Homo sapiens: one gene and its partners. The protein of the gene in region 1 purifies or fractionates together with the protein of each later gene. This does not show direct contact. Each region holds a gene or a part of one and is shown on either strand. Other genes may lie near its edges. The genes, in order: KCNJ2, EIF3M, STK38, HK1, UBE4A and AKAP5.

Region 1 (5,284 bases):
AAAAATACTTTCTACATCATGGGTTATGGCCTGGATAAAAATGATTATTTGTGTCCATGAAATTTACATCTAGACCCTTAAATATTTTGGCTGGAAGGGAGATTTACACATTGTTCATCAAATCAAATTTCAATTCTCTGGATTTGTATCACTTAGTGTTCTCATCTACTCCTCATTGATTGCATCTCAAACATTATTTTGAATATATGCTTGAAATAAAGTTGCATGTAAGCCCTGTTTTTTTAATGATAGCTTTTCTCAGCTGCTCACGAATTGGTAATTGCTAGTGAGAGGACCGGGCAAGGAAGTTTTCTGCTTGCTTAAAGTCGCTCAGGCATGTGGGCAGGTTAACAGTAAAAGCAATTTTTACCATGAAATATTAAGACCGTTACCCCATCAAACCTTGACAGGTTCTAGACTTTAGCTATGTAATCAGCTCCACAAAAAGTCTGCATACATATATGTGTGTGCACCTGCATACACACATAAATCTGTTTGGGGGCATATCTATTTAAAGTGGCAAAAGTTTTCTTTTTGCCAAAAAAAAAAAAAAAAAAAAAAAAAGCCCAAAACTCCTCTTTTTCTCTTTCCAGGAAGAAATGGTAAAATTTCTAAATGATGCTCCACATGTGGAACAAATTCTGTTATTAGCAATGGAAATAAGACAATAATAGTCTCTCAATACAGGCTACTTTCAAGATTCTAAATGTGGAAAGCTATTCATAGGAAGCTGGTATTGTGTGATTTGTGGAATTCAAACAAATGTCCTGGGGTCAAGATTTTTGGAAAGTCATAATTCAGTCTTTAGATTTCATATGGTTGTTATGTTTTAATCTGGAAGGAGTACAGAAATAAGTCAGAAGAAATTTGAGACTGTCTACTCATGGCCCCTAATGGTAACTCACATGGAAGGATTGTTTTGAATCATGAAAAGGGAATTTCTTGGTGTCAGCTTATAATACAAAGTTCTGAAGTCAATCAGAACTCAAAAATACAAAGCATTCATTGAATGAAGTTCTTCTCCTTTTTTTGAAACGTATACCTGCGTTTGGTGTTGTTGCTGTCTCTGTCTGTTTAGTAATGTGAGAAAACTAAGATGAAATAATTGCTTAAAAAATGCTGTCCATGTACAGGATCTAGAACTTCGAGGGGCAGGATTCTTGTTTCTTTGGTCCAAGTGCAAACTTCACAGGGAAGCAGACAAAACATTGAAGCAGGTGGAAGGTTAGGAAAGCACAGTAACTTCTTTTTATAAAGTAATTCAAAGGCACTTTCAAACTGAGCATCATTTAGGTGTCAAAAGCTGCCAAAATGTAACACACATTGCAATTTTCAAAGATGACTAATCTCAGGAAAAATGTGTTGGGGCACATTCTTGCATAATAACTTGGATAAAGAAGAAGTCAAAAGACAGTAACAAGGCATTTTCAAAGGCAATGCACCTTGCCTCTTCTTAAGGGAATGCACAAAAACAACATAAATGGATTGCTTTATTTGTTTGCGGCTGGCTTGGCTGATATCGGTTCTATTAACTGTTTAATCTTAATGGATTTAGAGGAGAAGGAAAAAGTGGAGTCTTCATTATCAGGCATCAACAAATTTCTGACTCTTTTCATGAGTTATTCATTGCCCCCCTTTAATATAGCAGAAGGATTTGGTTGTATGAAAAGTTGAAGATGGGCTTTATTTTTCAGTTCTAACTCTTATTAGTTTTGTTATTACACATTTGGTAAAGAAAACACCTTAGACTTTCTCTTAGCTTTTTGTTAGTTAGTCAAGGGAAATAGTTTCTTAGGAGTGAAGATGGAAAGTTGAAGTACATAGATAGTTCTTAGCTAGGGAAGACTGAGGCAATAGGAGAAAACTGAGAACTACTATTTGCACATATTAAGTAAAGGTGAGTGCCTTCTCCATAGGAACCTATACCAAATAACAGCGCTGGAAGTGAAAGTAAGCGGACTGGCATTTATGATCTGTCCTTACACAGTTGTCTCTGTCTGAGAGAACACAGCACTGGACTCACATGAAATGAGTTCCTGCCTTATCTCAATCCGCTAAAGACCTGGTCCTTTGGCACAACGGTGCTTACTTCCTAGCCTGTCATTACACATGACAGCCCCATCTCAGGAGAATTTCAGGGCTCTTATTGCTAGGCAACAGAATTGCTCTCTATCCCCCAGAGCAAACCTGCATCTTCAGAGTCTTCAAGCCAGAATTACCTGTACTAATAGAGACTTAGCAGGCATTTCTGCATAGTGGTTGCTTAAAGTGTGAGAAGTGATGAAGCAAGCCCAAACAGTATCCAGAAACTGGGATCCATTTCAGATTATTATAAGCAATAGGGGCAGTATTCACCATCGTAGGAGGTTTTGTCCACTAGTTCCCTCTATTTTCAGGATACACACTCAGTCAAGCCTACTCCAAAATCCACTTCACTATTCTATTTGTAGGTGGGAATCTGACTTTCTTCCTCTAGCATTTCGTCAGCCTATCCGGTCTGCTCAGTTATATCATTTAAACAAAATAGTCTGTCTTCCGATTTCAACCTTGCCATCAGGGACTCTAATATTCTCCCGTAATGCACATGCAACTCAGTGGATATCAATGCTGCGTCCACGTGAAGTTTTCTAAACATGTCCTTTTTCCAAAAATTTTACGACAAACCTTGGAATCAGACAGTCTTTCATCTGCTTAACAGGGATCCTAGCAAGTGGGGCAGGCAGAAGAAGAGAATAAGAGAAGGGAGAGGTAGACCTGAACAATAGAATATTCTAGATCCCTGGCCAAAAAGAAGGGAAAGGGGACCTGACCTGACATTTTGGTTGAACAACTGTCACAGACAACTCTTCTATGTTTAACGACTTTATGCTTTTAAATAAAAGTTTTACAAAGCATGCTTAGGATACAAAGAAATTTAAAACCTTATAATTTAATGTAAATTATACTTATCTTTACCTGATTATGTGTTTTTGTTAGGATATATTGTCTTAGACAGTAGAATTCTTTAAGAGTGGCTTATTTTGTAATGCACAGTCTCTCTTTTCTTGCAGGACATGTTCTCTGGATGTCAGCTGAGTCATTAAAGTAACTCTGCATGTCAGTAGACAGACCTTGGTAGAACCACAAGGCTCCCAGAGACACCCATCTCTCCTCATTTTTTTGGTGTGTGTGTCTTCACCGAACATTCAAAACTGTTTCTCCAAAGCGTTTTGCAAAAACTCAGACTGTTTTCCAAAGCAGAAGCACTGGAGTCCCCAGCAGAAGCGATGGGCAGTGTGCGAACCAACCGCTACAGCATCGTCTCTTCAGAAGAAGACGGTATGAAGTTGGCCACCATGGCAGTTGCAAATGGCTTTGGGAACGGGAAGAGTAAAGTCCACACCCGACAACAGTGCAGGAGCCGCTTTGTGAAGAAAGATGGCCACTGTAATGTTCAGTTCATCAATGTGGGTGAGAAGGGGCAACGGTACCTCGCAGACATCTTCACCACGTGTGTGGACATTCGCTGGCGGTGGATGCTGGTTATCTTCTGCCTGGCTTTCGTCCTGTCATGGCTGTTTTTTGGCTGTGTGTTTTGGTTGATAGCTCTGCTCCATGGGGACCTGGATGCATCCAAAGAGGGCAAAGCTTGTGTGTCCGAGGTCAACAGCTTCACGGCTGCCTTCCTCTTCTCCATTGAGACCCAGACAACCATAGGCTATGGTTTCAGATGTGTCACGGATGAATGCCCAATTGCTGTTTTCATGGTGGTGTTCCAGTCAATCGTGGGCTGCATCATCGATGCTTTCATCATTGGCGCAGTCATGGCCAAGATGGCAAAGCCAAAGAAGAGAAACGAGACTCTTGTCTTCAGTCACAATGCCGTGATTGCCATGAGAGACGGCAAGCTGTGTTTGATGTGGCGAGTGGGCAATCTTCGGAAAAGCCACTTGGTGGAAGCTCATGTTCGAGCACAGCTCCTCAAATCCAGAATTACTTCTGAAGGGGAGTATATCCCTCTGGATCAAATAGACATCAATGTTGGGTTTGACAGTGGAATCGATCGTATATTTCTGGTGTCCCCAATCACTATAGTCCATGAAATAGATGAAGACAGTCCTTTATATGATTTGAGTAAACAGGACATTGACAACGCAGACTTTGAAATCGTGGTCATACTGGAAGGCATGGTGGAAGCCACTGCCATGACGACACAGTGCCGTAGCTCTTATCTAGCAAATGAAATCCTGTGGGGCCACCGCTATGAGCCTGTGCTCTTTGAAGAGAAGCACTACTACAAAGTGGACTATTCCAGGTTCCACAAAACTTACGAAGTCCCCAACACTCCCCTTTGTAGTGCCAGAGACTTAGCAGAAAAGAAATATATCCTCTCAAATGCAAATTCATTTTGCTATGAAAATGAAGTTGCCCTCACAAGCAAAGAGGAAGACGACAGTGAAAATGGAGTTCCAGAAAGCACTAGTACGGACACGCCCCCTGACATAGACCTTCACAACCAGGCAAGTGTACCTCTAGAGCCCAGGCCCTTACGGCGAGAGTCGGAGATATGACTGACTGATTCCTTCTCTGGAATAGTTACTTTACAACACGGTCTGTTGGTCAGAGGCCCAAAACAGTTATACAGATGACGGTACTGGTCAAGATGGGTCAAGCAAGCGGCCACAAGGGACTGAGGCAAGCACAATGGTTTCAAAGAAAGACTGTAAGCTCCATGATTAGCATAAAGCACTAACCATGTCTCCATGTGACCCGATGGCACATAGATGTTGTAGAATAAGTTATGGGTTTTTATGTTTTGTTTTGTGTTTTTCCAAAACTTGAACTTGCAGGCAAGCCTTGGTTGGGTATTTGATTTATCCAGAATGCTTCTCTTTAGGGAACAAGGATGTTTTTAATGGCATAACAAAGGCAAGACTCTGCCTTAATTTTTGAAAAGCTGCTAACTACATGAACACAAATGTGTATTTTTGTTGCAGTGTAGTTTTCCTTTTGTGTAATTTTAAAGTCAGTGTTGAATTTTATTGAAAGCTCATGATGCGCTTCAAAGTGGCAAGTATTTGGCTATTAACTGCCAAAACAAGAGCCTGATTTTTTGAGGCCAGTAATTCGTTTGCTAGAATTGATTTTTTTTCTCTCTCTCTTTGTTACATAAGGGCATTATGTAACACTAGCCGAATGGTAGCCTCTGGGTTGTTGTTTTTTTCTTTTCCTCCATGATGTTAATGGGTTATCTCAAATTTTAAGTTAAACTACCTAAAATAAATACCAAAGATAATGCATATTT
Region 2 (4,751 bases), on another chromosome or scaffold:
ACCAGCCTGGCCAATATGGTGAAACCAGGTCTCTACTAAAAATACAAAAACTGTCCGGGTGTGGTGGCAGGCACCTGTAGTCCCAGCTACTCGGGAGGCTGAAGTTGCAGTGAGCCGATTGTGCCACTGCACTCCAGCCTGGGTGACAGAGTGAGACAGTGTCTCAAAAAAAAAAAAAAAAAAAAAAGAATTTATTTTTATAGAATTTTTAACTTTTTCATTGGCAAGGTAATTTTTTTTACAGATGAAACAGTGACATAAATGTGAAATAACTTTCCAGGGTCATTAAGACACAATATGTGGTGGACCTAGGCTAGATATTGTGGCTCTTAGTCAAATGCTATATTATACTTTCTTAACTTTCACAATAGAAAAAATGTTTCTTCTGAAAGATTGATGCATATAAAACAAACTCAATTCACTGGCTGAATAGACATTTTCTAAGTGCTTATTACTATGTGCCAAGTACTATGGTAAGCTTCATTGTCCCAGCTTAAAGCTTGATTGCAAATTATGTAATGTGGGGCAAATTCAAAAGTAGATCTCCTTATAAATTTAATAGACCACAGTCACACCCATTCCTTTGCATATTGTAAAGGCTGTTTTGGCATGGCACTGAGAATTGAGCAGTTGTAAGAGGCCATTTGGCCCACAAAGCTGAAAATATTTACTCTGGCACTTTTTGGAAAAAGTTTATCAACCTCTGTTATAAATGAATTTTATGAAGACTTATAGCCAAAAAAATAGTTTTATTTTTCAACATATTTTATGTACAGTCCACATCAATTCTGTTAAATTCAGGGAAGGTATTAAGTACCAATCCACTTTCTCTCTATGGGTCCAAAGTAACTTGAAAAGATGGTATGTTTTTCATTCTTGTTTTCAGCATTAGATTGTTAGCCTACTGCAATCTTGATTATATCCAGGAATGAGGATGGAAAACCAGAGTAAGCAAAGCAAGCCACTTACTTTTTTTTTTATATATCCAATGAATTAGATTCATTTAAGTTTAATTTTAAAATATAATCACAGGCAGAAATAAAAGGACTAGTACCAAGCTAGGGGAAATTTTTAGGCCAAAAATTAGATTTTGTAAGTCAGGCTGAAAGAGAAACAGGTGATAAATTTCTAAAAAGGATAGGAGACGAAAGAACGAAGATACAAGGCAATATATCTGAAAACAGCTAGAACTAAAATTACTGCGGTAGGCTGCAGAACCCTCAGGTAAGTTAAACAGGACAAGTTTTGTTAAGCGCAAACATTAGCTAATCTACACTGTATCTTGTTTCTCTAAAGCCAATCCCTGCTCCTACCCCTCTCAGCAAGTGGGTAGTTAAGGGGAAAGAAACTAAAGCAAGTAAACGTGTCCTTCCTTTCCATCATCAAGATAAAAAAGTCAAAGAATCAGGATTTTGGGAAACTGTTAATTTGTACTTGGATGCCAAATACACCAAAATGAACCCAGCACTTTGATGGCAAAATAGGAAATATTTATGTAGGTTTTTATCCATTACTAGTTATTCTTTCCAGTAATAGCATCTGGGAACTAAAAGAAGCTAATGAGTAAACTGAAGCCCAGAAAAATTAAATGACTTGCCTAGGTTCTCTTAGCAGTCCTGTGCAGACACTTTTGGAAGAACAAAGCCAATCAGATAAATATGAACAAAGAATCACCCCAAAGATCAGAGGTAAAACTCTCTGAGGGGACCAGTGGCTGACTATAGGATTTCAGGGAGGGAGCCAAACAGAGCAATCCAAAAGGAACACTCCTTAGGGAGCCGTGAACTTACCATTCTAAACATTTAAGTTCATTAAAAAAAAAAAAAAAAAAAAGTATTACTAGGTCGGGCAGGGTGGCTCATGCCTGTAATCCCAACACTTTGGGAGGCCGAGGCAGGTGGATCATGAGGTCAGGCGTTCGAGACCAGCCTGGACAACATAGTGAAACCCTGTCTCTACTAAAAATACAAAAAATTAGCTGGGCATCGTGGTGGGTGCCTGTAATCCCAGCTACTCGGGAGGCTGAGGCAGAAGAATCGCTTGAACCTGGGAGGTGGAGGTTGCAGTGAGCTGAGATGGCGCCACTGCACTCCAGCCTGGGCGACAGTGCAAGACTCTGTCTCAAAAATAAAATAAAATAAACTTAGTACTACATAATCTAACACTGAAAATGACAATGTTACTAACATGCCACTTTTACTGGTCAAATTGAAAAAGATTTTAATGTAAGGCAGTACCCAAAGATCTTCACAAAGATTTATGAACAAATGATAATCACTGCAGCCTAGTTAACAGTGACCATTTTCTTACAATTTAAATGTCCAGAAATAATTTGCAGAACACAGAATATGATGGAGCTATCCTCTTAACAGACTTAAGAACAGGAGGAAATGCTAAAAATGTTTAACATAGCATATAAACCAATAAAAATATGACCCCAGTATTTAAAAAGTGTATACAGAAAAGAGACCAGAAGATTTACACAAACTCTTTAATGGTGGTTGGGATCTTGGGTGATTTTAATGTAATTCTTATCCTGTTTCATATTTCTAAAATACACGTGTATATCCCTTTCAACTAAAACACAACACAGTATGGCTCACTCCTGTAATCCTAGAACTTTGGGAGACCGAGATGGTCAGATCACTTGAGCCCAAGAGTTAAGAGAGACCAGCCTGGGCAACATGGCAAAAAATACAAAAATTACCTGGGTGTGGTGGCACATGCCTGTAGTCCAAGGTACTCAGGAGGTGAAGGTGGGAGGATCACCTGAATCCAGGGAGGTCAAGGCTGCAATGAGCTGTGATTGTGCCACTGCACTCCAGCCTAGGTGACAGGGTGAGACCCTATCTTAAAAGAAAGCCCACCATAATTGTTATTTTGAAAACAATTCAGTATTCCTTTTGTTTTATCTATTATTTATTTTTGAGAGAGGGTCTCACTCTGTTGTCCAGGCTGGAGTGCAATGGCATGATCTTGGCTCATTGCAACCTTCACCTCCTGGGCTCAAATGATCCTTGCACCTCAGCCCTCCGAGGAGCTGGGACTACAGTTGCATGCCACCATGCCCAGCTAATTTTTGGTAGAGATGGGGTTTTGCCATGTTGCTCAGGCTAGTTTTCGACTCCTGAGCTCATGCAATCCACTCGCCTCAGTTTCCCAAAGTGCTGGGATTACAGGTATGAGTCACAGTGCCTGGCCCAGTATTCCTTTTGAAGAGAAAATTTTATCTGGGAATCTCTCAAAAACATCAAAGATTGTTTTGCATGAAATTAACTCGAATTAATTTTTGGTAGGGATAAACTGGAAACAAACATTCAGTAGTAGGAGATATATCAAACATCCATAAAAGGGAGTATTTTGCAGCCATAGACAATTGTTTTTAATGACCTAAGAAACTGCTCACAGAGGAAAATACATAAAATTCTATAGAATGATCAAATAGGCTAAAAATAGAAAAAAACGCTAGCAGCAAATAATACCAAAATGTCAACAAGCCTCTCTGGATAAGGGATTACTAATGATTTTTAGTTTCTTTCTACTTTACTCTATTTTCTAAATTTCCAGTAAGTATTTTAACATCAGAAAAGAACCTTAAAATGAAAAAGTTATTTAACACACTATTTTTAAAATTACCCAATACAGTGTCTTGAAAACATGCCAACTTCCAAATATCTCACTGCCCTTCCTGTTTCTTCAACAATGGTGTTCTGAAGCATGGGAGGAAACATGAAGTAGTAAAAGGCAGTTTTTGTACACTTTACTTCAGTTATATATTAGAGATTTTGAAGATCTACTACATAAGCCTACACATTCACATTGTATACTTTTCTGGTGCCAGAACTACTAAGGTAGTGGAAATCAGCCAAGAGATGGTGGTTTTACCACATACTCATAACTGCAGAGGCTTTACAGACTCTTTAAAATCTTTTGTATAATAATTTCGAAGGTAAAATTAGTTTATCTTTCCCAGGTGAAAACAAAGCCTCTGATATCAACTCCACTACAAAGCCATTTGCAGGCAATCAAGACGACTAAAAATACTTCTGGTGATGATGACTGGCAGAGCCTCATTACGAATCAACTAAATAAAAGTGAAAATTTACTAAGTTTAGAAAATGACAACCAGCCAAAGAAAAGAAAAGCAGAAGAGACGTTGGAAAAAAACAACAGATTAAAATAATGTAGATAAGTGCTTTCAGTAGTGAAATTATGTAACTGAAATTCTGGTATAGTTTTTACTAGAATAAAATGACTGTTGTATTTAAAGCTCTACAGTTTGTCTTTGCTTTTCCAAGTTTTTCTAATGTGAAGAAATTGTATTACTCTACTTCTGTCTTCTCTCTGTATATTATCCTTTCTTTAAAGTGCTCATTGCTTCTTCAATATCCTTTTTTAAAGAACAGAATTTATGTATTGTATGACAGACATTGTGACCCCTTGTAATTTATTACTTCATATCCTCTGGAGTTTGTGATTTTAGTATAAATTTGAGACAATAACTGTCCAGACTAGGCAAATTTTTTTAGTTTATAATGTTTTACTATGATTTAGGGCTTTTTTTTCAAAGAACAAAAATTATAAGCATAAAAACTCAGGTATCAGAAAGACTCAAAAGGCTGTTTTTCACTTTGTTCAGATTTTGTTTCCAGGCATTAAGTGTGTCATACAGTTGTTGCCACTGCTGTTTTCCAAATGTCCGATGTGTGCTATGACTAAAAATTGAAAAATTAAACACAGTGTTAGTCAAC
Region 3 (5,284 bases), on another chromosome or scaffold:
CACAATGAAACCAAGTAAAGCATCTGCCTTTACTTGACCTTAATACAGAAGCAAAGCTTTTGGGAAACAGTAACATTGCTTGCTGCCCCACAGCCATGGCTAGGACCCAGTCACTACAAGACATTAATACAGTAGAAGGCAGCCTTCATCTGCCTGTCTCCCCTGGCTCCCATTAAGCTCCCTACCTACTGCAGGGAGCCAGAGAAAAGGAGAGGCACTACAATTACCACTTGTCACTCACCCTGGAGGACACAATGGTGCCCATAACATTTCCTGTTTGTCAAGGGGAAAGCTACCATGAGCACACCTTGCCTTTCTCTTGAGGCTGAAACAGTAGCAAGAAACCTCATGGTTTGAAAGTGGAGTTGGCTGAATATAGATTAAGGGAGGGAAGAGTCTGAGGTGCAATTTATACAAAAAGGTTCTCTTTCCCCTATTCCATAAATATTTAATAAGGTGGGGGGTGCTAGTTGCTATCCTGTGCCCTAAGAAAGCAGAAATAAAAGCCAGTTTTTTGTCCCATCAATAACTGTATACTGGCATCACAACTGAAGGTTTTCCTTTTGCACTGGAAGAGAAACATCAGAAGCTAGTTAGATGTCATGTCTTACCCTTTAAATTTTTCCAGGTAGCAAAAATTTCCACCACGTGGAGCAGAAAAATAACCTGAACTCTCAGTGGGTAGCTTTAATTCCTACCCAGTTTATTTAGTAAAAGCAAACAAAAAAACAATTTTGCCTCTGTACCTCTACTTTGTCAGCCCTACCCCAAAATGGTGATGAATTTGCACTGGTCTACTTCCATCTTTTATCTAGCACAAAACCAATGCATGCTTCTTCAAGATGGCTAAGCCAGGTAGAGTCTGTGGCCAGAGACTTTAACTGGCTCATAATGAGATCTGTTAAGTTGAGGAGTTGAGTTCTCAGCTAAGGTGAGCTAAACAATTTAAGTTAATGTACCATTTAATCCATAAGTTAATGCATCATTTAAAATGTTAATTCTAATAGTTTCTTTACTTTCATTTAGGAAAGTTTTAGAAAGTGATTTTGAAGGCACAATATTTGCGAAAAGGCTTTTTACACATTATGTCTGGATCATCCTCTGTTAGAAACCATGCGGGGCACCTGGTATACATAAAATTACTAACTGAAAATCATATGTACTTTGTTTTGCAGTATTACTCTGACAGTTAATATTTAATAAAAAGAGGTCTTAAGCCTTGGTTAAAACTGTAGGAAACATACCTTGCAAAAACAAAACTTACTCATGAGATGCAAACATACTAATTAATGCAGAAGCTTTATATTTTCCTTCTCAAGATTAACTGAAACTTTTTCAGTGCCTACACACCCATACCACACACTAATTTGTAGATAGTATGTAAGTAGGCCGGCCTACTATGAATTTTGAAAAAGGTTGGCGTTAGCATAAACTATAGTGTCTCAAGACTTACCGCCCAGGTATTTGATACTCCCAACTGAAATTCCTGGGAGTCTAAAGCTTCTCGGTAACACATGAAAATTTGAGAGAAAATAAAAATTCCAAATTTTGGGGTGGCATTTAAATGAAGACAGGGAAGACCAGTGATTATATCTCCTCTCAAGAGGTAGAAAGGATTGGATGTGGGGCCAATCTCCATCCCCCCTCTTTGGCCCTAAATTAGGAGTTCTCCTTGTCACAGGGTCTCCATGTTCCTATAACATCAAATCTTTTACAGGACATTTGCGGTCATCACCCACTGCAATCTTTTCTTAAGCAACCAGCTACATTAAACTAGATTTATAGAAAGTCTATTCTTGCTTTTTAAAATATACTTTCCAATATTTAAAACCTTATTTATTTTGCATAAGGCACTTTATAAATTGATTTGCAAACCAGGTTTTGGTTTTAGAAAGTATCCTTTATCATTAAAGGAGAATTTGCATTGTTCTGTCATTTGCATTGTATTTTTCAAATTCATTCAGAAATTAGAAGGCTGGTCTTTTTCAGGTACCGATGAGCTACCTAGAAGACTCAACTTTGGTTTAGGTAAACAGAATGAAGCATATAAAGACACATTTTAGATTATAAATTCCAAATTCTAATTCCTAGTCCTTAGTTATGAGATATATATACAATTTCTATTTCTCAGCATTTGGTAAGAAACACACTACCACACCACGTACGACCTCAAAAAAAAAAGGCTCTCACAATAAGGACATCTTGTGATCAATTGGAAGACACAAGTAAGAGCTGCTTTTGGAACAGATTTTCAATTTTTAAAAGATTGCATATAACCTACAGGCATTATTTGTGATTTTAAATATGAACTGCTTCTTTGTAGGGGGAAAAAGGTAGTATTATATATATAGTCATACATGACAGAGCTAAAGAAAACTGTAATAAAAATATATATTTCAATTAAACAAAAAGAAAAGTTTTAGGAGACAAAAATTAATAAGCTAAAAGCACTGCTACAACTGTGCTTTACCTGCTCTTTTTCAAGCATATCTGCTTTACGGAGTATTTTCATTGCATACACATGTCCCGTATCTTTCTTCTGAACAAGCCGTACCTAAAAAGTTATAAAAGAAATGCCAAGTCAAAAACTCGTACTACCAACCTAATGCTTTCATGTGTTATAGGATGCAATAATTAACTGAAAAAGTATTACAATTTTAACATGAGCAACTAGTAATAACAAAGCAGAAGAAAATGCTTTTCAGTGTTCCAAAATGAATACATTACACACAGTAAAGTCGATGCTGGAAACATCCTCAAATACCTCTACATCTGAACAGCTTTGGTTCCTTAGTTGAACAAGCCAATCTAATTTAAAACCTTCAATTTCAAATTTAAGGACTCGTTACACCTCTGACACATGTCATCCAGTCAGCTCAGAAAATCTAAGTAAATGATTACAATGATGTTTAATTAAAACAAAAGTAGCTGTGCATGGTGGTGTATACCTGTAGTCCCAGCTATTTGGGAGGTTGAGGTAGGAGGATCGCTTGAGCTCAGGAGTTATGAGCTATGGTGCATTATGCTGATCAGGTGTCTGAACTAAGTTCAGCATAATATGGTGACCTCCCAGGAGCAGGGTGGCAGAGGGGGGGCCCACCAGGTTGCCTAAGGAAGGGCAAACAGGCCCAGTTCAGAAATGGAGCAGGTCAAAACTCCCATGCCAATCAGTAGTGAGATCGTGCCTGTAAACAGCCACTGCACTCCAGCCTGGGCAACACAGTGAAACCTTGTCACTTAATCATAATAATAATAACAAAGTAAAACTTCATGCTTAGGAAAAACGTCTGGAAAGAAAAACAAAAAATTCAGGCCAGGCGCGGTAGCTCACACCTATAATCTCAGCACTTTGGAAGGCCGAAGCAGGTGGATCACCTGAGGTCCAGGAGTTCGAGACCAGCCTGGCCAACCTGGTGAAACCCCGTCTACTAAAAATACGAAAATTAGCTGGGTGTGGTGGCAGGTGCCTGTAATCCCAGTTATTCGGGAGGCTAAGGCAGTAGAATCACTTGAACCCGAGAGGCGGAGGTTGCAGTGAGCCAAGATCAAGCCATTGCACTCCAGCCTGGGCAACAGAGCAAGACTCTGTCTCAAAAAAAAAAAAAAAAAAAAAAAGAAGAAGAAGAAAATTCAAAATGTGTAATTAGGGAAATTGTGTTTTATGTAGTTTTCCTTCTCTTTTATGTTTTCCAATGTTCTTAAAGAAAACAGATAATTTTATGAAGAAAATTTACAACCAAAAGAAAAATTTCACTGCAAGTTCCTGCATGTCCTCCCCTCTTCTCCCAAAATAAGTAGGTTTTCTTCTCCCTGAACCTTTCTTCATGTTTTTCCTAATTGAGTACCACAACCCTTCCTTGCCAAACAGAAAGCTCTTTCAGAGGTGGTACTATACTTTTCCCTCTTTCAAGAAGCCAATAGGAATTCTGAACACTGAGGGATCAATCTATCACCTGTGCCTCTGAATACTATTCACATTTCCCCGGGGTACCAGGTTTTTTGTTTTTTTTTTTTTTTGAGATGGAGTCTTGCTCTGTCACCCAGGCTGGAGTGCAATGGTGCAATCTCGGCTCACTGCAACCTCTGCCTCCTGGGTTCAAGCAATTCTCCTGCCTCAGCCTCCTGAGTAGCTGGGATTACAGGCACGTGCCACCACACCCGGCTAATTTTTCTATTTTTAGTAGAGACAAGGTTTCACCATGTTGTCAGGCTGGTCTCGAACTCCTGACCTTGTGATCCGCCCGCCTTGGCCTCCCAAAGTGCTGAGATTACAGGAGTGAGCCACCGTGCCTGGCCCCGGGGTACCAGGTTTTAATAATATACTGCTCCTTTTATACTTGCAATTATTGCGTCAGTAGGTCATCCAGTTTGGGCATTTTTCATTAACAGGAATGACCTTGCATGGGCTCTTTCAAGCTCTCCCCAACAGATTGCTCTTGTGCCCAAGCAGGATCATTTCCAAGAATTGCGGGGACAAAGTCGCAAATGCTTTCAACTCTCCACCACTACCTATATAACTCCTTTCTGTAAATCCTCCCTCCTAGGGTCATCTTTTTAGAGCTGTATCAATCTGGTGGGGAGAAATAAAGGGTGGAGATACACTATTAGTTTCCTTCTCGAGAGGCAGTGCAGTACTGGGAAAAGCAAGCTCTTTGAGTTCAGGAAGTAGAGCCCAACTTTTGGTCCCAGTACTCAATGGCTGTGTGATAACAAGAGACATTATATATACCTTTAGAGTCTTAATTTCACCATCTATAAAATGGGTTACTGTCCTGATTATGGGAAAAAAGCAGCCTGTAAATAATAAATGTTGATTTCCTTCTACCTTTCAACTCTCCCCCTAAGTCAATATTTAAACACCAACACCATCTCTGGCAAAACAGAGAACAGAGATCTGGGACTGCGGAGAGAAGAAAAAGAGAAAGCAGACAGACAAAGCAATTAGGATGTGGGGCTGGCATGCCTGACTCATTTAATTCCATATATTTGTTATATCAACAATCATGACTTAATGGTATGTTAGAAGCTTTGAAGTTTTGCAATATTTTTCTACTTGACAAGTAGCTGTGATTTTTACCTCACCAAATGCTCCTCTGCCTATTACTTTTAAGGACTCAAAATCTTCCAATCCAAGTCTTGTTCTCTTCAAACGAAGAAACTCTGTTTCCTTCCGAGCATGTGCTGATCTCCGGAGTCGTTTCTAATATTTAAATAAAAAAGGGAGGAGACGGGAAGGAACTGAAATTCTGAAACTCTGTAACAAGTCATGTTTGTGACTTACCCA
Region 4 (3,500 bases), on another chromosome or scaffold:
CTTCTATTAAAATAAACATAACCCTGCCTGGACGGGTGAACACATTGGCTCTTGGTTGAAAGTCAGCTAAGCAGGTGCCCTCTGGGTGATGTGGCTCAGACTCTCCATTTACATTTCAAATTTTTCCATTTCAAAATTGGGAAAGAAAAACTATTACTTTGTTCATCACAAAAAACGTGCCCCCTGCCTGTGGAACCTCAGGCCCCAGACCCCAGGCCCAGTTGCAAGACCCCCAAATGCAAGGCCACCGCTCCTCATTGCCCCCTCGTGTGTTCCAGGGACCGGCAGCAATGCCTGCTACATGGAGGAGATGAAGAACGTGGAGATGGTGGAGGGGGACCAGGGGCAGATGTGCATCAACATGGAGTGGGGGGCCTTTGGGGACAACGGGTGTCTGGATGATATCAGGACACACTACGACAGACTGGTGGACGAATATTCCCTAAATGCTGGGAAACAAAGGTAACCCCGCCTGGTGGAGAGGACACTCACAGTCAGGGTGGGGGCAGCACTTGGCTGCATTCTGCCACTTGCAGTGGAAGAAGTTTCTAGGAGGAGAGGTCTGAACAGAGGTTTCAAGACTGGACCCCCTGGCTCACTCCTGACCTTTGTCTTTTGGACAGCAGAGAACCAGGGAGGACAGACCCCCAACATGGTACAAGATGGCCCAGGGTTGATGCCTGTCTAGGGGCTGCCTGTGACTGTTTTTTAGCCTGGAGGATTCTGGCCTTCCGGTCCCCTTGCTGTGTTCCTTTCCCATCAGAATAACAAGGGGGTGGGGTGAGGGTGGCTGGGCGGCAGGTTGGTGTGAAGCAGAGGCCCTGTCGCAATCGTCCTTTCCTCCGTGAGCCTCCTGCACCACCTAGTGGCCTTGTGGAGCTTTGCAGCTCAGGTCTCAGGTACCATGTCTGAAATGGCAGTGTCTGCCCTTTGTCTCAAGCCCCCAGGAATCAGGCCATCCTCTGCCACGGCCAGGATGAGTTGGTCCAAGTTGTCTCCCTAGGAGCAGAAAGAAGGGCTGGAGCAGCACCCAGCATGAGTCACTCCCTAGCCCCCTCAAGGTTTTTGCCTTTTCTAAATACCACCCATGCTGTTATTTACTTAGTGCTTTTCTTCGAATCAGCTTACAGTTTTTTGTTTTTCTTTTTGTTTGAGGTGGAGTTTTGCTCTTGTTGCCCAGGCTGGAGTGCAATGGCGTGATCTCGGCTCACCACAACCTCCACCTCCCGGGTTCAAGCAGTTCTCCTGCCTCAGCCTCCCCAGTAGCTGGGATTACAGGCATACACAACCATGCCCAGCTAATTTTGTATTTTTAGTAGAGACGGGGTTTCTCCATGTTGGTCAGGCTGGTCTTGAACTCCCGACCTCAGGTGATCCGCCTGTCTAGGTCTCCTAAAGTGCTGGGATTACAGGTGTGAGCCACCGCAACCAGCCCTTATAGTCTTTTTCTTTTCTTTTCTTTTCTTTTTTTTTTGAGACAGAGTCTCACCCTGTTGTCCAGGCTAGAGTGCAGTGGTGCGAGCTCAGCTCACTGCCACCTCCTGGGTTCAAGTGATTCTCCTGCCTCAGCCTCCCAGGTAGCTGGGATTACAGGTGCACGGCACCACGCCCAGCTAGTTTTTGTATTTTTGGTAGAGACCAGGTTTCACCATGTTGGTCAGACTGGTCTCGAACTCCTGACCTCAGGTGATTGGCCCGCCTCAGCCTCCCAAAGTGCTGGGATTATAGGCGTGAGCCACCGTGCCCAGTGGCCTTTAAGGTCTTTACTGACATTTAATGAAGGAGGAAAAAGAGGAAGAACCAATAGTACCATAAAGAGATGGTAACTAAAAAATGAGTATAGTGAAGAACCGTGCTATTCAAGTCTAGCTGATGCTGTCGCCTACCAAATGACCTGAACTAAGACCCCCTTTGGGCTGAGTGCAGTCTATCATCAAAGTAATCCCAGCACTTTGGGAGGCCAAGGTGGGAGGATTGCTTGAGCTCAGGAGGTTGAGACCACCCTGGGCAACATAGGGTTGAGACCCTGTCTCTACTAAAAATTAATAACAATAATAACAACAATAATAGTAAGACCCCCTTGGTTAAAAAGCGGGGGGATCAGCAAGTGTTGGAAGGGGTTAAGGACATGTCAGCACCAAACTGGGGTGGTCTTTGTGGTGGAATGAGAAGGACTGGGTGGGACTTCGTAGTGGTGGCCCACCCCTCTGTGATTCCATTCTGTTTCATGTTCTTCCATGGACCACATGAAATAGGAGGAATCCTGGAGTTCCAAATTCCAGGGGACTCTTCTCAGCTTTGGGACACTGGGCTTGGGCATGTGCCATGGAAATGAATCAATCCTTTGTTATTTCTTGAGATCCTTGAGCATGGAGAGGGCAGGAAATTTGAAGTCCCAAGAACAGGTTGACCTCCAGTGTGTTGTGGTCACTGAATTCTCCCTCCTGTGTGGCCTCATCACTCTGCTGTGGGCTTGACCAGTACTCTGGGTATTTGCAAAACCTTTAGAAAAATCTAGAAACTTTCCTTTTTTTTGTCTTCTTGTTCCTTTAAGACTTAGCCCAGTCATTTGCTTATTCTGCAGATAGTTTTTGGGCACTTTCCTGAGGGCCCAGTGCTATGCTATGCTGTGCTGTGCCCTGGGGACTCAGAGCTGAAAAAGACACACATGCCCTGTCCTCTTGGGGCTGTCACTACAGCAGTGGTGGTGGGAGGCAGTGAGCTCAGGTGTGTTGTGAAGGAGGAGAATGGTGAGGTGTGTGGGAACCTGAAACAGGCAGGTAGAACCCAGGATCAGGAGGAGGACAGGCTCTCGGGGAAGTGACCTTGGGGCTGAGAGCTATCAGGCAGCTGAGGAGGGAGACCAGTCTAGCAGGTAGACATGAATGCTGGTGGTTTTGTTTCTGATGTGAGAGAGTGGAGGACTCCCTGGTCCTTCCTGGTCCTCCCACTCTGCCTCTGCGGCAGAGCACAGGGCTGGGCACATGGCTGTTGATGATGCGCTTGAGGGGCAGTAGGAGACGCGGAGTGACCGTGAGACCGAGGGGTGACAGTTCTCCTGGCCACTTCCCATAGACACCCCAGGCCCCTCCTCCTGTCTCAGGTATGAGAAGATGATCAGTGGTATGTACCTGGGTGAAATCGTCCGCAACATCTTAATCGACTTCACCAAGAAGGGATTCCTCTTCCGAGGGCAGATCTCTGAGACGCTGAAGACCCGGGGCATCTTTGAGACCAAGTTTCTCTCTCAGATCGAGAGGTGAGTGGGCAGTGTCTTCCCTGCCAGCGCCCACCCTTCAGAGGTCGCCTGGCTGGTGGATTGTGATGGGGGTGGTAGGGACCCTAGGGGACATTTTGGCCATTTTTGAGGATTTTTTTTCCTCTGGAATAGCAGACCCTGGGCATTTGCATAGTGAAATCTTATAATTTTATTATAAATTACTTTTCTTGGCCTGGTGTGGTGGCTCATGCCTGTAATCCCAGCACTTTGGGAGGCCGAG
Region 5 (5,284 bases), on another chromosome or scaffold:
TCATGGGTGATGCTGTTGATTACAAGGAGTTCAGAAAGAACTACATGTAAGATTGAAGCCATTCAATAACTACTTATTTAGGATTTTGTGATTGTGATGTATAATGCCAGACACAGAAGAAAGAATAATCAGATATGAACATGTAATCAGAAGAGCTTACAGCCTAGCAATGTAGAAGATCTGCTTAGAAATACAATGCAGAAAGTTTAAAATCCTAGTAAAAATAGAGGTAAAATGTAGAAAGCTAGTTTCTTTATACAGTGCAACAGTATAGTATTGAGAAAGAAGGAAGTAATGCAGTTTATGGTGATAAATTCTTTTTGTTTCTCTTGATAGTCTTTTTGTTTGTTTGTTTGTTTGAGACAGTTTCCCTCTGTTGCCCAGGCTGGAGTGCAGTGGCAACGATCTTGTCTCACTGCAACCTCCGCCTCCCAGGTTCAAGCAATTCTCCTGCCTCAGCCTCCTGAGTAGCTGAGATTCCAGGTGCACGCCACCATGCCTGGCTAATTTTTTGTGTGTTTTAAGTAGAGATGGGGTTTCTCCATGTTGGTCAGGCTGGTCTTGAACTCCTGACCTCATGATCTGCCCGCCTTGGCCTCTCAAAGTGCTGGGATCATAAGCATGAACCACTGTGCCCGGCCTTCTTGATAGTCTTAAGAGCTTCTCTGTCATATGTCCTATATTCCTGGCTTTCAGCTTCCTTTCTGCTTACGTGTTGCAGGTGATGCATGTCCTTTGTAATAATCTGGACACTTTTCAGTTGTGTTTTAAAAAACATCAAACTGGTTTAGGCATTTAGGGAAATTTTATTGGTTTTTATAACTGAAAAGTCCAGACTTATCTTTCCATCTCTCAATTCTGTTTTCTAGTGTATGTTGGCTTGGTTTTAGGCTAGGCCTTTTCTAAATGGTGTAAAGATGGCAACTCTATCTTACTGGCTTATCAACTCAATCAGGAGAAAACTCACTTTTCCGTAGATTCAGCTGAAGTCCTGAAGCTGGTATTCATTGACTCTGTTAGGCCTCCATAGTGTCTTGTGCCCACTCCTGGATCAGTTGCTTTGGCTGGAAAATGCTGTATTCTTTTTAGCCTGGCCAGACTTGTATGTTCATTCCTGGGGCTAGTGGGTGAGGTCAACCCCTTCTGAACTGGTCAGCCTCTTCTGGATTGAGTGGAGTGGATACCCAAAGGAAAAAAATGAATGTGATGTTTTAGAGAGAGAAATAACAAGAGCTCAATATACTTTTTGCATTCCTCTGGAATTTGTGGTATTTTAGGATGGAAGTAGAATGGTGGTCAGCTAACAATAAGACAATTCTTGGTGTTTTTACATTAACTACAGGTAATAATTAAACTTGTGCGGTAATTACATGGGGAAAATCCCTCTCATTAATTTCAATACTAAATATGGTATCTTTCCCTTTTTTTGCATTATTAAGCTTACTGAAATATACATAGCAAAAAATAAAATACAGAAGGCCAGGCGCAGTGACTCATGCCTATAATTCCAGCACTTTGGGAGGCCGCGGTGGGAGGATCACTTGAGGTCAGGAGTTCGAGACCAGCCTGGCCAACATGGTGATACCCCGTCTCTACTAAAAATCCAAATAACAGTTCAATTCCTTGAAGCAGTAAAGCTTTGAGCTGCACTGAGAGGAGACTAGACTGCCTAAGTCATTACAGCTAATTAGCCGTTAGCTCTTGTGTGGAAAAAATGGCAGAGGAGCATGAAGCAAGTGCTGAAGATGCCTCAGAATTGTCAAGAAATGTTATAAATAATCTCTTTCTCTGGTAAATAAGGGTAACTTTTTCGACCACATTAGCTTTTTTTTTTTTTTTTTTTTTTTGAGACGAAGTCTCGCTCTGTCACCCAGGTTGAAGTGCAGTGGCACAATCTCAGCTCTCTGCAACCTCTGCCTCCCGAGTCCAAGCAATTCTCCTGCCTCAGCCTCCTGCCTCCCAAGTAGCTGGGATTACAGGCACCTGCCGCCATGCCTGGCTAATTTTCGTGTTTTAGTAGAGATGGGGTTTCACCATGTTGGCCAGGCTGGTCTTGAACTCCTGACCTCAGGTGATCCACCTGCCTCAGCCTCCCAGGGTGCTGGGATTGCAGGCATGAGCCACTGCACCTGGCCCACATTAGCTTTTGTTGATATGATCCTGTGAGGAGTCTTGCCTCAATAAACCAAAGGTAGACCAAATGTTCTTTTTTTCTTCCTTTATACCCCTACTCCCGCTATTTCTAAGGTCTCTGTCCTTATAGCAGTTCAAGATCCTTATGAACAAAACATTCATACCCTTTGTCTCTTCCCACCCTTTTCAGTGTTGTATTTAATATTTCTATGTCATGGCCTTAAAATTTCAGAAAGGGGAGAAAGCCTTTCAGGGAGCCCTGTTTATTCTGTTGTGCCACTGAGTTCACTTGGTCTTGAATGAGGAAATGTAATCAGAAGAGTGTGAATGCAGGCTCAGCCAGCTCTACTAAACACCTTTGAGGTATCTATATTTCATATTACACAGTAGACCTGACCGTTGGAATTCGTGTTTCTTCAGTATTATTTTAAGAAATCAGGTAAACAGTGAAGGTTAGATATAGCATGAAGCAAAGACCATTTAATTTTTAGTGGAAGAAATATCAGTATTTTTAAGCCTAGAAATAAATAGATTGCTTAATCTATGTTAAAAACCCACAACATACAGCTGAACTGCTTCCAGTCCTGATTTGCCAGAGTCCAAATCTAAGATATGGGCTTTTACTTAATTTATATGTAGCTGAGAAATATCCATCCCCAGCCCTAAGTCATAGAAGTCCCTTGTCCTCACCCCAGTGAATGAGAACTAGACTGCCAGCTTAATTCTTGGGAAATCCATAATTCTTGTCTTATTATTTTTCAGTGCCACATTGTTATTACAATTAGTAGGTGAGTTCTCTCTTTGACTTCAATAATTCTTTCTACTTAACCTGTTTTCTTAAAGGTATTGCAAATAAAAGTATATCAACAGATTAATGCATTCCAGCTGAACGTTTTAGCCTTTTTAGTTTCAGCTATCCACAAATCAAGCCACCGAGTCCAGCTGGTAGGTTTGTAACCATTTTGCCAAAAATGTCTTGAGTTTGGGGACAGGAATTGGAAAATCTTAACCCAAAGTATTTTAAAATGTATTGTATTTGAGAAATGGGAAAAGAAACAACCACAGGTATATTACAGCTATTGTGTCATCTGCCCTCTTGTGTCTAATACCTGTCCTTTGAACAGCCTCTCCCACTAGGTCTGGATGGAGGATACCTTAAAGTGAAATGACAGACCAGGAGAATAACAACAACATCTCAAGTAACCCCTTTGCTGCTCTTTTTGGCTCCCTGGCTGATGCCAAACAGTTTGCGGCAATCCAAAAAGAGCAGCTGAAGCAACAATCTGGTAAGTGGAGGAGCCAATAGCAGCAAATAAGATGACCTAGAATGGGGTCTTCCCAAATTAAGTATTCTTTGAGTCCTTAATTGCAATTGGAATTTAAGTTTGGAACAAAAGTTGGTTTTTGTTTGTTTGTTGAGAGCAGAAATTGGGGTTTTTTGTTTGTTTGCTTTTATTGTTGGTTTTGTTGTGAGTCCCTCCCCTCCGCTGTCCTCTCCACTGTACAAAAAGAGACCAGGTAACAGGTGGTTCCATAGTAACAGATGCCAGTCGTGATCCCAAAGCTGTCAGGCTGTTTTCTTTAAAAGAAAAAAAAAATCACCTAGTAAAAGCTATTTAAATAAATGTTTTTAACATGGGACACAGAGGTGGTAAGTGTAGGTGTAGAAAGCAAGTCATGTGCAGCTATAGAAAGCAGATGTAAAAGGAAGAACTATAAAAGCTTTTTGACCTGTAGGCAAATGAGACTTGTTCTTAAGCTCAGCACTTCAAAGGCCCTCCCAAGCAAAGTGCTTCTTCTGTTCCGATGAGTGGCATCATTTGTAGCTTAGTCCTGTTAGGACAGACTTTTTTAAAAAATCTGATCCTTAGCCTTACTATGAAAAACATCAGAATAACATCTCAGTAATCAGAAAAAATGGTTTTCTTTCAGGCACCGAATTTAAGATCAAGTCCAGCTTCCTCCTATAAGGAGACATATACACTAGAAGAATTAGGATTTTTCTCAAATATGTTAGTCTTCTGAAGATATTCACAATCTTTCAAACCAGAAATTGCTCCCCTTCTCCTCTCTCCGAAAAGAATAATAGTGTTTTTCTTTTGAGAGAAGGAGAAGTGTTTGCATTTTCCCTTTATTTTGTTTATTTAAAAAAAAAAAAAACACTCAGGTGCATAGCTGACTTTTGGCCTTTCAGTTAGAAAGGGCTGAAGAAAAAAGAGGTAAAGGCAAGACAGATAAGTGATTGATGCAAGGGAAAAACAAAATCAATGTTGATTTTTTTTAACATGGTATTTTCAGTCTCTGAAATCTCTCCCAGATTTCTATGATACGGGGCCAGAATGGGAAACTCTGGTTTAGAAGATTGTAGGGGAAAAAGCAGAGTGAAAAATAGGAAAAATAAGGAATGAGAAAGTATGATTTATGAGTATGTGGTTGAGGGAAATTTTGCTAAACAGATTCTTAGCTTCTGTCACCATTGGAGGTCAGAGAAAAACTCAACAGTATAGCAGCTGAGCAACAGAACGCTTGTCCTTCTGGCTATAAACAGACATAAATCTGGCTAGAGTTGGGAGCATTGCAGGCACATGCCCTTCTGTTACTATTTTGGCACCTCATCATCCTAGTTTGTTTACACTGAGTTTATCATGCCACCAGGTCCAACCTGTTTCCACTAGCAATTAGTACTTTGCCAAAACCTTTGGCTTCCTATGTTGAGCTTATACTCACCACACTGAAACAACTCTTACTTTGAGAGTTTTACCTGGACTTTCAGACTAGCCATTCTGTCAATAGAGAAAAGTACATATAGACTCATATGTGGCATATAGTGAATAACACTACTTTTATGTAGTCATTCAACATGAATGATGGGGCTGGGCGCAGTGGCTCGCGCCTGTAATCCCAGCTCCTTGGGAGGCCTAGGTGGGCAGATCACCGGAGGTCAGGAGTTCGAGACCAGCCTGGCCAACATGACAAAACCCCGTCTCTACTAAAAACACAAAAATTAGTCGGGCATGATGACAGGCGCCTATAATCCCAGCACTCTGGGAGGCCAAGGTGGGCGGATCACCTGAGGTCAGGAGTTTGAGACCAGCCTGGCCAACATGGTGAAACCCCATCTCTACTAAAAATACAAAAATTAGCCGGGCGT
Region 6 (5,036 bases), on another chromosome or scaffold:
GTTCATAAAATTATGGGTTACCCAAATGAAACTTCAGTGAAGGATTTACATAAAAACAATATAAAGAATGAGTCCCTTTGCTTATTTTAGGGCATCCACCCACTAAAATTCATAGGATCTTTGTTGGATAATCACCTCCCATTTCCATTCTTTGGTGCCATCATACCATTCTAAGGATTAAATTTTCAATACACCTTTATATTATCTAAGTTTGCCAATTGCATAGTTTGCCAACTTATTTTTGGCTTTTAAATTAGTTCCTGAACCAAAAAAATAAAATATAAAGAATTTCAAAAGCTTGGTTTTCAAATGACAAGAACTCAGTCTACTCGTGGTTCAATTATGAGTTGATAAGTGCCTTATGGTTAAATGACCATTAATCAATTTTTTAATTTTTTTACTAATGAAACACTGCAGATTAGTATCCCCAAACAATTCATTTTCTGACGAAACTCTTAAAGCCCAGTTTCAGAACATAAGCTTTAAGCAACAAGCAATCTTGTGTTAATCTGAGCTCTGTTACAGCTCTGCCGTAATCTCAGCCAAATTGCTTCATCTGTACGTGGTGATACCACCATCTTTGTAATATTGTGGTGAGGATTAGAGATGTATGTAAAAGTGCATGCACTGCCTAATACCCAAGAATTGCTCAATAAATGTCAGCTATTACTACTCTTACTGACTTCCAACTATGTGCAGATTATGGTGGAAACATGTGATACAGCAGATACAGTACTTAAATGAAAATGTCAAAATTGTACAACTAATTTAAGAGTGGGAAATGACAGTAATGCTAAATTTTCCTAAGAATATGTATGAAAAATAGCACTTCCTTGATGGAACATACATTTTTAGAACAGAAACCTTATGTTATAATGGTAAAACTAGAGAGTCAAAGTCTCTAGTTCTAACTCTGGCTATGACCTTATCTAGTTGCATGGCTTTTGACAAGACAACTGCTCCCCTCTGGAGTTCAGTTTTGTCATCTGGCTGGATTTGAGTAATCTCAAATAATCTCTAAAGTCCTTTGCAGCTTTAAAATTATCTATTGAGTGTGATAAAGATTACATCAGCTTGCTTTTCATCCTGCACTTCATTTTTGGTTCTTGTTGTTTGCTTAACTTGCACTTTAGAGTCATAAGCAATTCACACAGACAACACAACTAAAGAACTGATAATATCAGACTTGCAGGGTAATCCAAAATGAAGTTTCAACAAGGAGGATAAAACAAAATAGAATCACACTGAACTCTTTAATAGGGCCAAAGTAAACCCCAATGTTTATTCTCCAGTCATTTCATTAAGTTATTATATGGAAAATATGCCTGGTAGAATCTTATACATTCACTGAAATAGTCTCCACAGAAAATAATAGGCTCATAGTGAAATAAAATACCACTTTCTTTTCTCTCATCAGGTTGATCTTTAAATAAAGCAAAAATTTATCCAAAGAAGGGCTTTCATCAAGAAATTAAAGAGAGAAATTACAAGCCATAGAGAAACTGGGCATTTCTATACTAGAGAAACCACCTAAAACAACTGTATGGAGTAAGATGAAAGGTATGAATATGCCTGGAAGAAATTTTACCTAGTGTGACATTTTTGCTCATCTTTTTGTCACAAAAGGCTGCTAAGGAAGAGAGAATACAGTTTTCTAGAGAATAAGAGTGCAGTGTAAAAATGGAAACCACAATTTCAGAAATTCATGTAGAAAACAAGGATGAGAAGAGATCAGCAGAAGGTAGTCCTGGGGCTGAAAGGCAGAAGGAAAAGGCATCCATGCTTTGCTTCAAGAGAAGAAAGAAAGCAGCCAAAGCACTGAAGCCCAAAGCTGGCTCTGAAGCTGCTGATGTGGCAAGGAAGTGTCCACAAGAAGCAGGAGCTTCTGATCAGCCAGAGCCCACACGGGGGGCCTGGGCCTCACTCAAACGTCTTGTAACACGCAGGAAAAGGTCAGAGTCTTCAAAGCAGCAAAAGCCATTGGAGGGTGAAATGCAACCTGCAATAAATGCTGAGGATGCTGATCTTTCTAAGAAAAAGGCAAAATCTAGACTTAAGATTCCCTGCATAAAATTCCCAAGAGGGCCAAAAAGGAGTAATCATTCCAAAATTATAGAAGACTCAGACTGCAGCATCAAAGTCCAGGAAGAAGCTGAAATTTTGGATATACAAACACAGACCCCATTGAATGATCAGGCAACAAAGGCTAAGTCAACCCAGGATCTAAGTGAAGGCATCTCACGGAAAGATGGTGATGAGGTCTGTGAATCAAATGTGAGCAATAGCACAACTTCTGGAGAGAAAGTGATTTCAGTAGAACTTGGATTAGATAATGGGCATTCTGCTATTCAAACGGGAACTCTAATCCTTGAAGAAATTGAAACGATCAAGGAAAAACAAGATGTTCAACCCCAGCAAGCAAGCCCACTTGAAACTTCAGAAACAGACCATCAGCAGCCAGTACTTTCTGATGTTCCTCCTTTACCTGCAATTCCAGATCAACAAATTGTGGAAGAAGCCAGTAACAGTACCCTAGAAAGTGCACCAAATGGAAAAGACTATGAAAGTACAGAGATTGTAGCTGAAGAAACTAAGCCAAAAGATACTGAATTGAGCCAAGAATCAGATTTTAAAGAAAATGGGATCACTGAAGAGAAATCCAAATCAGAAGAAAGCAAAAGAATGGAGCCAATTGCTATTATTATTACAGACACTGAAATCAGTGAATTTGATGTTACAAAATCTAAAAATGTCCCTAAGCAATTCTTAATTTCAGCTGAAAATGAGCAAGTAGGGGTTTTTGCTAATGATAATGGTTTTGAGGATAGAACTTCAGAACAATATGAAACACTCTTAATTGAAACAGCCTCTTCTCTAGTCAAGAATGCTATTCAGTTGTCAATAGAACAGCTGGTTAATGAAATGGCCTCTGATGATAATAAAATAAACAATCTTCTACAGTGACTTACTCTCCAGAGTCACGGCAGAAAAAACAAGCTTAATGAAGAATTCTTTTATACATTTGTGGCATTTCTTACTCAGTAACAAATGAGAGATTTATCATCTCTAGAACTTAAAAGGTACAATTCCAGCGCAGAAGTGCTAAAGATTAAGTCAAGTTTATAAAACTCTACCACTGAAATGCAGTCACTTCTGGATTGGAGGAAGTCAGCACAGATTGCAGTGTAAAATGACATAACATACAGGGAGTTGCTAAAATGGCATATGGAGATTGGAGTGCTTTGGGGGAGGAAGGTGTATTTATTGAGCACTTATGGTATGCCATAAGCTTTTTAATGACCTCTGATATAACAAAGTCTGGTTTCCTTTTGATAATTCAGCTCTGTGTATAGGCTAACATCACATTAAGTTTTTAAAAACTTATTTTTTACAGTGCACATATATGTTTAAAATGGTGAATAAGGTGAGCTACTTTTGTGAATGTGATTTGTAATTGTTACATTCCTAAGCAGCAGGCTTAACTCAAAAAATACATTGCATTTTCCCAATTTCAGCAGATAGTGTGCAGAATATGCATATTGATATTAAACGTGAGTGGTTTCCTAGTCTTAAGTCTCTTATAAGCGCTATTTGGCCAGGGGCAGTGGCTCACGCCTATAATCCCAGCACTTTGGGAGGCCAAGGCGGGTGGATCAGCTAAGGTCAGGAGTTCGAGACCAGCCTGGCCAATGTGGTGAAACCCCATCTCTACTGAAAATACAAAAATTAGCTGGGCGTGGTGGTGCACGCCTGTAATCCCAGCTACTTGGGAGGCTGAGGCAGGAGAATTGCTTGAACCCGAGAGGTGGAGGTTGCAGGGAGCCAAGATTGCACCACTGCACTCCAGTCTGGGCAACAGAGCGAGACTCCTTCTCAAAAAAAAAAAAAAAAAAAAAGAGAACCATTCACAAATCCTTCAATCAGGCAAATTGTTACTAAGTGCAAAAGTGTAGAAACAGGGAGAGTGGGTTTTTCCCCCGCTTTTCTTTCTGCCTCAACAGATCTGTATATATCCATTTCTGCATGGATTTATCTGTGAAAAGTTAAAAAATGAAACAGCAAAAACAAAACAAGGGGAATATTATTCTTCATCCAGGAGAAGGGAAAATTCCCAAGTAAATTATCACAGATAATATAGGATTCATCTTGCAGAATTACTTCTTTAAGAGCCATATTCATCAACTTCTCTCCAAAGAGGGGAGAGTAGATTCAAAGCCAGCCTGGTAGTAATGGTCCTGGAAAATCCTAATAATCTAGTGCAAATATTTATTCTCGGCCAAAAATGAGCCATGAATGTGGGTGAATAGAAAAGTGAAAAGTTATTGCTAAAGCACATTATAATTTAAATGTCAGTATTCCTTCATGTCTGTGTGTTGAGACCAGTAAAAAGCATTTTACATGAATATTGAAAGTTAACTTTTTCATCACTATTTTCTTTTCTTTTTTTTTTTTTTTTGAGATGGAGTCTCACTCTGTCGCCCAGGCTGGAGTGCAGTGGCGCGATCTTGGCTCACTGCAAGCTCCACCTCCTGGGTTCACACCATTCTTCTGCCTCAGCCTCCCAAGTAGCTGGGACTACAGGCGCCCACTACAACGCTCGGCTAATTTTTTGTATTTTTAGTAGAGATGGGGTTTCACCGTGTTAGCCAGGATGGTCTTGATCTCCTGACCTCATGATCCTCCCGCCTCGGCCTCCTAAAGTGCTGGGATTACAGGCATGAGCCACCGCACCCGGCCTTCATCACTATTTTCAATCCAGATATACTTTACAAAAATGAGAAGGGCTTATTTGCATTTTTATTTACATATTGAAAGGGAAGCATCTGATCTCATCAATGATTGCCATATTTTTTGAAAAAGTAATCCTATTTCAATCTTTCCTTGTGTGAAATGGCCATAATACCAGAGTGCACTTCCCTACCTCACAGGTTAGGATTCAAAGTGTGTATTCCCCCATTGTGTAAATTGAGTGATTGTGTTACTACTTGAAACAGATGAAGTAATAAAGATGAAGTATGAGATGTAAGGTATTTGTT

The links.
Region 2: the proteins of KCNJ2 (region 1) and EIF3M purify together in Homo sapiens (affinity purification with mass spectrometry, with the first as the bait; one large-scale study listed by BioGRID). This does not show direct contact.
Region 3: the proteins of KCNJ2 (region 1) and STK38 purify together in Homo sapiens (affinity purification with western blotting; one study listed by BioGRID). This does not show direct contact.
Region 4: the proteins of KCNJ2 (region 1) and HK1 purify together in Homo sapiens (affinity purification with mass spectrometry, with the first as the bait; one large-scale study listed by BioGRID). This does not show direct contact.
Region 5: the proteins of KCNJ2 (region 1) and UBE4A purify together in Homo sapiens (affinity purification with mass spectrometry, with the first as the bait; one large-scale study listed by BioGRID). This does not show direct contact.
Region 6: the proteins of KCNJ2 (region 1) and AKAP5 purify together in Homo sapiens (pull-down; one study listed by IntAct). This does not show direct contact.

What each region holds. Positions count from the first base shown.
Region 1 is NC_000017.11:70,171,774-70,177,057, forward strand, and holds part of KCNJ2 (inward rectifier potassium channel 2), read left to right. Parts: intron 1-3,050; 5' UTR 3,051-3,266; coding exon 3,267-4,550; 3' UTR 4,551-5,284.
Region 2 is NC_000011.10:32,602,243-32,606,993, reverse strand, and holds the end of EIF3M (eukaryotic translation initiation factor 3 subunit M), read right to left. Parts: intron 4,716-4,751; coding exon 4,595-4,715; 3' UTR 4,184-4,594; coding exon of another isoform or gene 3,974-4,183; 3' UTR 730-3,973; downstream 1-729. Other genes in the region: CCDC73 (coiled-coil domain-containing protein 73), read left to right, coding at 3,974-4,183. UniProt on the Homo sapiens protein: Component of the eukaryotic translation initiation factor 3 (eIF-3) complex, which is required for several steps in the initiation of protein synthesis.
Region 3 is NC_000006.12:36,519,264-36,524,547, forward strand, and holds part of STK38 (serine/threonine-protein kinase 38), read right to left. Parts: intron 5,201-5,284; coding exon 5,078-5,200; intron 2,555-5,077; coding exon 2,471-2,554; intron 1-2,470. UniProt on the Homo sapiens protein: Serine/threonine-protein kinase that acts as a negative regulator of MAP3K1/2 signaling. Converts MAP3K2 from its phosphorylated form to its non-phosphorylated form and inhibits autophosphorylation of MAP3K2.
Region 4 is NC_000010.11:69,391,847-69,395,346, forward strand, and holds part of HK1 (hexokinase-1), read left to right. Parts: intron 1-278; coding exon 279-462; intron 463-3,103; coding exon 3,104-3,259; intron 3,260-3,500. UniProt on the Homo sapiens protein: Catalyzes the phosphorylation of various hexoses, such as D-glucose, D-glucosamine, D-fructose, D-mannose and 2-deoxy-D-glucose, to hexose 6-phosphate (D-glucose 6-phosphate, D-glucosamine 6-phosphate, D-fructose 6-phosphate, D-mannose 6-phosphate and 2-deoxy-D-glucose 6-phosphate, respectively).
Region 5 is NC_000011.10:118,361,783-118,367,066, forward strand, and holds part of UBE4A (ubiquitin conjugation factor E4 A), read left to right. Parts: intron 1-3,257; 5' UTR 3,258-3,298; coding exon 3,299-3,419; intron 3,420-5,284.
Region 6 is NC_000014.9:64,466,715-64,471,750, forward strand, and holds part of AKAP5 (A-kinase anchor protein 5), read left to right. Parts: intron 1-1,417; 5' UTR 1,418-1,680; coding exon 1,681-2,964; 3' UTR 2,965-5,036. UniProt on the Homo sapiens protein: Multivalent scaffold protein that anchors the cAMP-dependent protein kinase/PKA to cytoskeletal and/or organelle-associated proteins, targeting the signal carried by cAMP to specific intracellular effectors.